2 linked regions of the Homo sapiens genome follow. The main gene of each other region encodes a partner of the protein of the gene in region 2 in a complex. Each region holds a gene or a part of one and is shown on either strand. Other genes may lie near its edges. The genes, in order: ARF1 and IQSEC2. A codon is read from its position in the direction of its gene.

Region 1 (3,905 bases), on a different chromosome or scaffold from region 2:
GCACCTTGGGAGGCCGAGGCGGGTGGATCACCTGAGGTCAGGAGTTCGAGACCAGCCATGGCCAACATGGTGAAACCCTGTCTCCACTAAAAATACAAAAATTAGCTGGGCATAGGGGCAGGCGCCTGTAATCCCAGCTACTTGGGAGGCTGAGGCAGGAGAATTGCTTGAACCCGGGAGGCGGAGATTGCAGTGAGCCAAGATTGTGTCACTGCACTCCAGTATGGGCGACAGAGCAAGACTCCATCTCAAAAATAAATAAATAAATAAAAAGTATTTTAAAGGAAGGGGAGGCAGGCTCTGGTTCCCACACAATCCCCGCTCAGTGACCCTGGAGCCACCCCTGGCCACGCTCTGCCAGCAGAGAACCAAAGCCAGGTCCCTTCAGCCCTAAAGAGGCCATAACCACATGTAACCCCCGTGAAATGTCCGCACATGGCCCCGCTCTGGCTGAGCAGGGAGAGGCAGCACAACCAGAAGGTTCCACAGGCATCCACAACCCTCCCTGGGGCTTTCCAAGAGTATCTGAGATGCCTGTAGGGTGGGAGACGTCCTTCCCCTAAACAGACAACCCTGCCACAGCTTCACAGAGGTGAGATTTCGGAAGGGAGCCCCAGGCAGAAAAAGGGACTAAATTTGGGGGCAGGAGGGTCACCGCTTTTGGGGACCTTCGTAGCCCCCGCAGGTGCAGCCCTGGGGGAGAGATCTGCCCATCGCAGCCTCCAGAGGCAGTGAGGACGCCCTGCCCAAGGGGCAAGCAACGTAGGTGATGGGGGCAGCAAAGGGGCGCAGGAGGCCTGGGCCAGGCCCAGTGATCCCACCCCTCAGGCCCTGCCCCCGGGCCTCGGCCTGCACAAATCAGGTTGATTCCCGACCTCCACAATACCCAGGGCACTGTGCTGCAGGGACACTTTCCCACAAGCCCAACCCCTCACAGCAGCACAAGGGAAGAGGCAAGAAGACCTGAGGGTGGTGGGCAGAGCCAGGCCTCCAGCACACGGAACACAGAGGGACTGCAACGGTCCTCTGTTCAGGTGCCTGAGAGCGGGATCTCCTCCGCCTCAACTGGATCTCAGCTTAAAGGCCAGCTCATTAGAGACCACTGTGACCTCCCTTCTGGGCGGCCGTCCCCAACCCTGGGCCCCACCCCCACGGCCCCCGCCTCACCCCGGGGTCCCCAGGCCACCTCCTCCTTTGCTTCATCTGCGGCCAGCTCCCCGGCGTCTGCTCCGGGCCCAGGTATGAGCCCGCGCGTCACTGCGGCCGCCGGGGCGCCGAGGCCAGTGCGGGGACACAGCAAGCCTCCCGCCTTCGGACCTTCCGCCGTGGCCCCGCGAGTGCCACAGGTTTCCACAGGGCCGGGGCACGTGGACCCGCGCAGCCTGGGAGCCAGGAACCCCAACCCCGGCGAGGGGCGCCTCGCACCCCCGTCCTCACGCAGTCCCCGAGGCCTCCCGGTGACTGCCGGGTGTGGGAGGAGGAAGGTGGCAACCAGCCCCGCAGCTCCAGTTGCTGCAGGAGCCCCCCGGGCCTCAGTCTCCAAATACGCCAAACGGGCGGGAGTGAGCCACAGGCTGTCTTCGCGGAAGACTCACAGGCGCAGGCGCAGACGGGTGCGCGCCCCTAGGGTGCGCGCGAGCTAAGACCGCGGCCCGGGGCAGGGTGTCCCCGGCCCCGCCCCCTGCAGCCCTACCGGAGCCAGCGCGCCTGCGTCGCGGGCGCACGGTGGGCGGAGTTCCCGGCGTCTCCGCCCCTTACCCGGCGTGCCCCGCGCCCGGAGGCGCTGACGTGGCCGCCGTCAGAGCCGCCATCTTGTGGGAGCAAAACCAACGCCTGGCTCGGAGCAGCAGCCTCTGAGGTGAGGGCGAGGGGCGCGGGCCGGTGTGGGCCGCAGAGACGTTGGAGCCGGCGGGGGCTGGGGACTGGCCTCGGGGCGACTTGAGGTTCGCGAAGGGCACGTCGACCCCCGCGGCGGCGGCGGCGACAGGGCCGGGCCGGGGGCGGACGCAGACGGGCCGGGCTGAGGCTGGGGCCCGGCCGGAGTCGGGGCTGGGCGGACGGGCGGGTCGGTGAGCTCCTCGCACCCCTCACAGGTTCCCGAAGTCGCTCGCGGCCGCTTGTCCTCCTCTGCCTGTCCCTGCCCCCGCCCGTCGCCCGGAAGTCCGCTTGGACGCCGGGCTCTTCTCCAGGAAACCTGGGCTTCCTGCTTCCCTCGCCTCTGCCTTTCTCGTTTCCCGAGGCCGCCCGCGCGTGGACGGTTGGGATTAGCGGCCGCGGGGGCCGGTGGGGGTCGTGGGGCCTCCCCCACCCGAGTACAGGCGAGCGAGCGGCATCCGGGCGGACCCCCGCCTCGGGGACCGGGAAACTGAGGCTCGGGCGGCCTGAGACGCCGTCAAGGTCATGTAGGTGGTGGGGGCTTGCATCTTCGCCTCCCGACTCCATCCAGTTCGTGTTTGCTGTGAAGACGGTACCGGGTCAGGGGTGGTGAGAGCGGGCGGGCAGGTGGACAGGAACCCCGTGCCCTTCCCTGTCTGCTGAACGGAATGCGTGGACCTCCGGGGGAGCCCAGAGTGCCTCCCTTCACACCAGTGAGACGCAATTTGGGGTCAGCACTCAGGGCACCGGTGGCCTCCAGAGGGCCGGTCGATCTTCGCTTTAACTCCAGGGTGGTTTCCTTGACGTTGTCGGCAGTAGATAAGAAGGCCTCTTCTGAGCTGGTGAATCTTTAACCTACCTGAATCTTTAACCTGCCTGCGGAACGACCTGCTCGCAGACTCTAGGCCGCAGAGGCCGGCCCCAGCGCTCTCTCGGAGCACAGCCTGGGTGGTTACGGCGTGTGAGATTGGGGCTGGACAGCCGTGCGCACCTAGAGTGTTAAATAACCATTCCGACGGCACCTCCTGGCACTCCCTTTCAGTCCAGGCAGCCAGTTGCTGCTTTGCAGGAATTGAGCAGAAATGCACTCGGAATCGCGGGCAGGAAAAGAAGGGAGGTCGGAGGCTTTGGATGGTCCCCGAAGTCGCCGCCTAGTTGAGAGCTGTAGAGTTGGTGCCACTGCCCCTGTTGGAGTGGGCAGTTGTAGTTCTTGTTTCAGAACTAGTGGTCAGCAGTTTTCTTTGCCGGCTGTTGCAAGGCTGGTGGTTCTGGCGTTTTCCGCAGTGTGTTGGGAGGAGTGTGAGATGCCGCGGTGCAGTTGTGTGCGGCCCCTGTGGCCCTCTGCTGTTGCGTTAGCCATTGTCTAACACGTGTGACCGCATGGATGGTGTCCTCATTTAATTTGAATTTTCACCAGCACTGCCTAGGTAGCCAGAACCATAAGGTCCTGAAATGCCGTACTATTAGCTGGGTCCAAAATTGAGAAGAATTGAGTAGTGTAAATGTTAGTCACACATCTCATTGGACACATTGTTAGAGTGTGTTGTCCATGTTTTCACATGTTGGTAGACTGGAGAATAGCTGTCACTTGTCTTCAGGCGTATCTTGTTGAAAATAAATCCAAATCACTGCAGCAGTAGGAATATGCTGTTGCCTGTGAGGCAGATTTTCGGATTTGCTAGTTGAAAAAGATTTGAAACAGTTGGTTTGGACAACAGCTGAGTCACACAATGACTGTGAGTGAAAAGCAAAAACTGGTTCTGTGCCCCTCACAGTTCTGGTTTTGTACATCATGTGGTCTAGCTATGGGCTGTACCTCTTGCACAATATGGAGAGGACATTCAGACATCTTCAACTGCTCATCTGCCCCTACGGACCAGACAGGCTTGAAACTATAGGAAGATGCATTTGACCTTTCATTTTTCAGTTCAGTAGAATTTAATATGGACTGTCAGCCGCTGCGGTGATCATGGAAGTAGACCTAAGAGAAAAAAACTTGTGCAAGTTCACACGTGGAGTAGTATATGACC
Region 2 (3,905 bases):
CAATAGAGGATAGTATATCCATTTAATAAGATAATGCACAGCTATTAAAAACTTGACATTTACAAAAACATTTCAATAGCATGAGAAAATTACAGTAGCAAATTATGGGAAAAGAGTAAGATAAATTGCATGTGTGGTATGATCTGAACTATATAAAAAGTTACATATGCATGGGGGAAAAGATTAGAACGCACCAAAACATTAACTATGATTGCCTCTAGGGGGCACATTTTGGGTGATAAAAAGAAATTTTCTAATTTTCTGAATCTTCCAACATTTCTGAAATAAAGTATGTATTACCTTCATTTATTTGCTTATTTATTTAATAATTAGAGGGGGAAGTTACACATACACACACACACACCCACACACACACACACATATATTGAGAGAGAGAGGGAAAAAGAATGGATGAATGAATGATGGCAAAATTCTAGGAGACAGCTCCAAATGGCCTCTGATCTAACTCCCTCCTCCCATGTTCACCATCCTTCTCCACTTCTGATTGCTGAGTGAAACCCACTCACTCTTCTCTCTAAATCCTCTACTAGAGAAAATGTTTTCTGGGCAGGACGTGGAGGCTCACACCTGTAATCCCAGCACTTTGGGAGGCCGAGTTGAGGCAAGGAGTTTGAGACCAGCCTGGGCAACCTAGCAAGACCCTGTCTCTACAAAAAATTTAGAAATTAGTTGGGCATGGTGGCACGCGCCTATAGTCCCAGCTACTTAGGAGGCTGAGGTGGGAGGATCGCTTGAGCCCAGGAGTTCAAGGCTGCAGTGAGCTCTGCTAGCACCACTGCAATCCAGCCTGGGTGAGAGAGTGAGACCCTGTCTCTAAAAATAAAAAAAAAAAAAACAAATAAAATAAAAAAACAGAAAACAAAAAAAATGTTTTCTTCCTTGGAAATGTCACATCTCCTCCTTGGACAGGTGCTAAAGGAACATACTACATCGCACTGACTTTCTTACCAGAGCAGCCACAGCGGCACAAACCTGATGGGCAGCCAATTTGTCTTGTGTTCAGTTTGCTTTTTTTCTTTGACTCTATTTCCCTCTTTCTTTTCTGCTTAAATAATCTTAACATCTGTACCATTTTTAGTAGCTGCTCTTTGGTGATAGGCAGGGCTCGACATCAGTAGAATAAGCAAAAAGAGCAAGGTGACACCTTTCATCTGGCATTCAAGGCCCTCATATATTGGTTCCATATATTGGAACCTCATATATTGGGACCTTCCCAACCCATCAATGACCTCATCTCAATTGTTCTTTTTTTTTTTTTTTTTTTTTCAAGACAGAGTCTTGCTCTGTCACTCAGGCTGGAGTGCAGTGGTGCGATCTTAGCTCACTGCAACCTCTACCTCCCAGGTTCAAGTAATTCTCCTGCCTCAGCCTCCTGAGTGGCTGGGATTACAGGTGTGCACCACCATGCCTGCTAATTTTTGTATTTTTAGTAGAGATGGGGTTTCCCCATGTTGGCCAGGCTGGTCTGGAACTCCTGGCCTCATGGGATCCACCTGCCTCAGCCTCACAAAGTGCTGGGATTACAGGTGTGAGCCAACGTACCCAGCCCTCAATTGTTCCCTAAAGAAAATAAATGTTCCTGCCTCTGCGCCTTTGGTATTCTCATTGCTAGGTAAGCCCTCCTCTATCTCTATTGTGTCACCTTCTCCATGCCTTCAAGACCCACCTTAAAATAAAAATACTACCTCCTCCAGGAAGCTAGCTAGAGGTGGGCTCTCCCTCCTTTGAGCTCTGACTGCACTTTTGGCCTCTCTGATGTCACTGTTCACTTTCTGTCTTATGTTAGTTATCTGGGTGCTACAAGTCAGCCTCTCCCACACACAGGGAGCTCTCTCAGAACAGGGAGTATGGCAGATTCCCCTCCATTGTCCTTGGCACCCATCATGGGGCTTGGCACACACTAAGCGCTAAGTGTTGACTGGCTGGCTGGTTGTTTGGTCGAGTGATAAATGAATGCATGAATAGAGGAAAAGGTACCTAAAATAATTAAATGAGTCCTCATGGGCATAAATAAGAGAGGGAAAGAAGGAGCGAGGAAAGGACAAGTGAATTACTGAATGAATGAATGAATGAATCAGAGTAAAGCCTTGTAAGAGTCAGGACTTTAATCTATCATGTTCACTGCTTGAACCCCAGGACCTAGAAACCTGGTACACAGTAGAAGCTCAGTACAATGGGCAAATGACGATTTGAGTGAATTAATAAGTGAATATCCTGGGAACATCCAGCTAGGGCAGAAAGTGACAGCATCACAAATTAATTTCCAAGGAACAGATGGGATCTCCTGCATCCTTCCCCTTACCCCCCACTTTCCCTTTCCAGGTGAAGGGCAGGAAAAGCTGACAGGGAAGTCACCTCTCAGGTTCTTGATGAAGTCATCTAGTTTCATCTTTCGTTCAGCTTTGACGCTGGGACTGTACATGTCGGTATTGAGGAGGATGATGGCAAAAGCAAGGATGAAGATGGTGTCTGGGTTCCGGAACTGGCGCACGAGGGCTGGGTTACAGACACAGTACCGCTGGCTGCAGGGCAGGAGGGGTCAAAGCCAGACTCAGGAACCAGCCATCTCTGCCTACCCACCATCCACCCAGTCTGGCACCAGCAACCCTTTCCTGCAAGAAATACTTTCTTGATCTCTGGGTCTGTCCTCTTCAGAGCTTCCCCTAGACCAGCATGTAAAAATCACAATCGCTACCTTTTACAGAGCTCTTCCAGGGGATTTATGTACGTTGTTTCACGTAATCCTATCATAATCCTGCAAGGTAGCTATTGGCAGTCCCATTTTACAGATGAAGTGACTAAGACTCAAAGTGGCGAGGTAACTTGCCCAAGGTAATAGAGCTGGTAAATGGTGAAGCCAGGATGAAAACCCAGTTATTTCTGACTGCAAAGCAAATCCTTCCCCCATTGTGGGAAACAAGTTCTCAGCAACTCCTGTTTCTCTTCTAAATACCCTAAAGTGGCAGAGCCAGGATTTAGACCCCAGTCTATCTGATCTCCAAAGCATTTATAGTACAGTAAAATGGTTAAGGGCATGGATGGATCATGGACTCAGACACATACGAGTTCAAATCCTGTTTCTACCACTTATTCACTGTATGAGCCTGGGCAAGTTACTTAACCTCTCTAAACTTCTGATTTCTCATCTGTAAAATGGGAATAATAACAGAAGTGCCTACTTTATGGGGTGGTTGTGATTATTCGGTGAAATAATCATGTAAAGTGCTCAGCTCTGCACCTGATACCTAGTAAGTGCTCCGTGAATGTTAGCTGTTATTGCTGATGTTGTTGTCACTTATCGAATGCCCATGTCCCAGAGGCTGAGCTAGATACTTTATATGCACTACCTCTGATCCTCACAATTGCCTTGCAAGATAGGATTTATCATCTCTGTTTTATGGTGAAGAAAGTATGAGGCTCAGAGAAGTGACTTATAAACACATACTACGTCGATGCCCACAGGAGGGAGGGGCAGCTTCGCGAGTGGGAGGTAGGCACACCTGAAGGCTTCGATGAGTCGCTCCACTTTCTGGGCCTCACCCTGAACCCGGATATGGGACTGGAACTTCCGGAGCGCATCATCCAGATCCATGGAGGAGAAGTCCATCTCATCCACCACACAGCTAAGGAGCAAAGAAGGAGGTGTGGCGCTTTCAATTCCTCTGCAGAAAACCTCTGACCCACCTGGACCTGCTCAAATGGACCAACACCCCCACTGATAGACTCTCAAATTCAGGACCTGTGGCCCGAGCAAGTACACATGAGGACAGAATGTTTGAAATCAAATCCATCTCAGAAAATTGAGGCAAGGCACGTGGTCACTAAAGGTCCTTTCCATCAAGCCACTCATTTCAGAGACAGGAAAACTGAGGCCCAAAACAGGC

Evidence for each region.
Region 1: the proteins of IQSEC2 (region 2) and ARF1 are in contact, whole or in part, in a crystal structure (PDB 6FAE), measured with the Homo sapiens proteins. Residues at the interface, in NP_001104595.1 of Homo sapiens: Arg810, Gln811, Gln841 (codon at 3,583), Arg845 (codon at 3,571), Val846 (codon at 3,568), Gln847 (codon at 3,565), Gly848 (codon at 3,562), Glu849 (codon at 3,559), Ala850 (codon at 3,556), Gln851 (codon at 3,553), Val853 (codon at 3,547), Glu854 (codon at 3,544), Glu858 (codon at 3,532), Asp879 (codon at 2,491), Phe882 (codon at 2,482), Ile883 (codon at 2,479), Phe886 (codon at 2,470), Ala887 (codon at 2,467), Ile889 (codon at 2,461), Leu890 (codon at 2,458), Asn892 (codon at 2,452), Thr893 (codon at 2,449), Asp894 (codon at 2,446), Tyr896 (codon at 2,440), Ser897 (codon at 2,437), Pro898 (codon at 2,434), Ser899 (codon at 2,431), Val900 (codon at 2,428), Arg904 (codon at 2,416), Met906 (codon at 2,410); in NP_001019397.1 of Homo sapiens: Arg19, Gly24, Leu25, Asp26, Ala27, Lys30, Thr31, Ile46, Pro47, Thr48, Ile49, Gly50, Phe51, Asn52, Val53, Glu54, Thr55, Thr64, Trp66, Asp67, Val68, Gly69, Gly70, Gln71, Lys73, Ile74, Pro76, Leu77, Trp78, His80.

The regions. Positions count from the first base shown.
Region 1 is NC_000001.11:228,080,908-228,084,812, forward strand, and holds the start of ARF1 (ADP-ribosylation factor 1), read left to right. Parts: upstream 1-1,800; 5' UTR 1,801-1,858; exon of another isoform or gene 1,859-1,943; intron 1,944-2,226; exon of another isoform or gene 2,227-2,467; intron 2,468-3,905. UniProt on the Homo sapiens protein: Small GTPase involved in protein trafficking between different compartments. Modulates vesicle budding and uncoating within the Golgi complex. In its GTP-bound form, triggers the recruitment of coatomer proteins to the Golgi membrane.
Region 2 is NC_000023.11:53,244,593-53,248,497, forward strand, and holds part of IQSEC2 (IQ motif and SEC7 domain-containing protein 2), read right to left. Parts: intron 3,645-3,905; coding exon 3,522-3,644; intron 2,544-3,521; coding exon 2,377-2,543; intron 1-2,376. UniProt on the Homo sapiens protein: Is a guanine nucleotide exchange factor for the ARF GTP-binding proteins.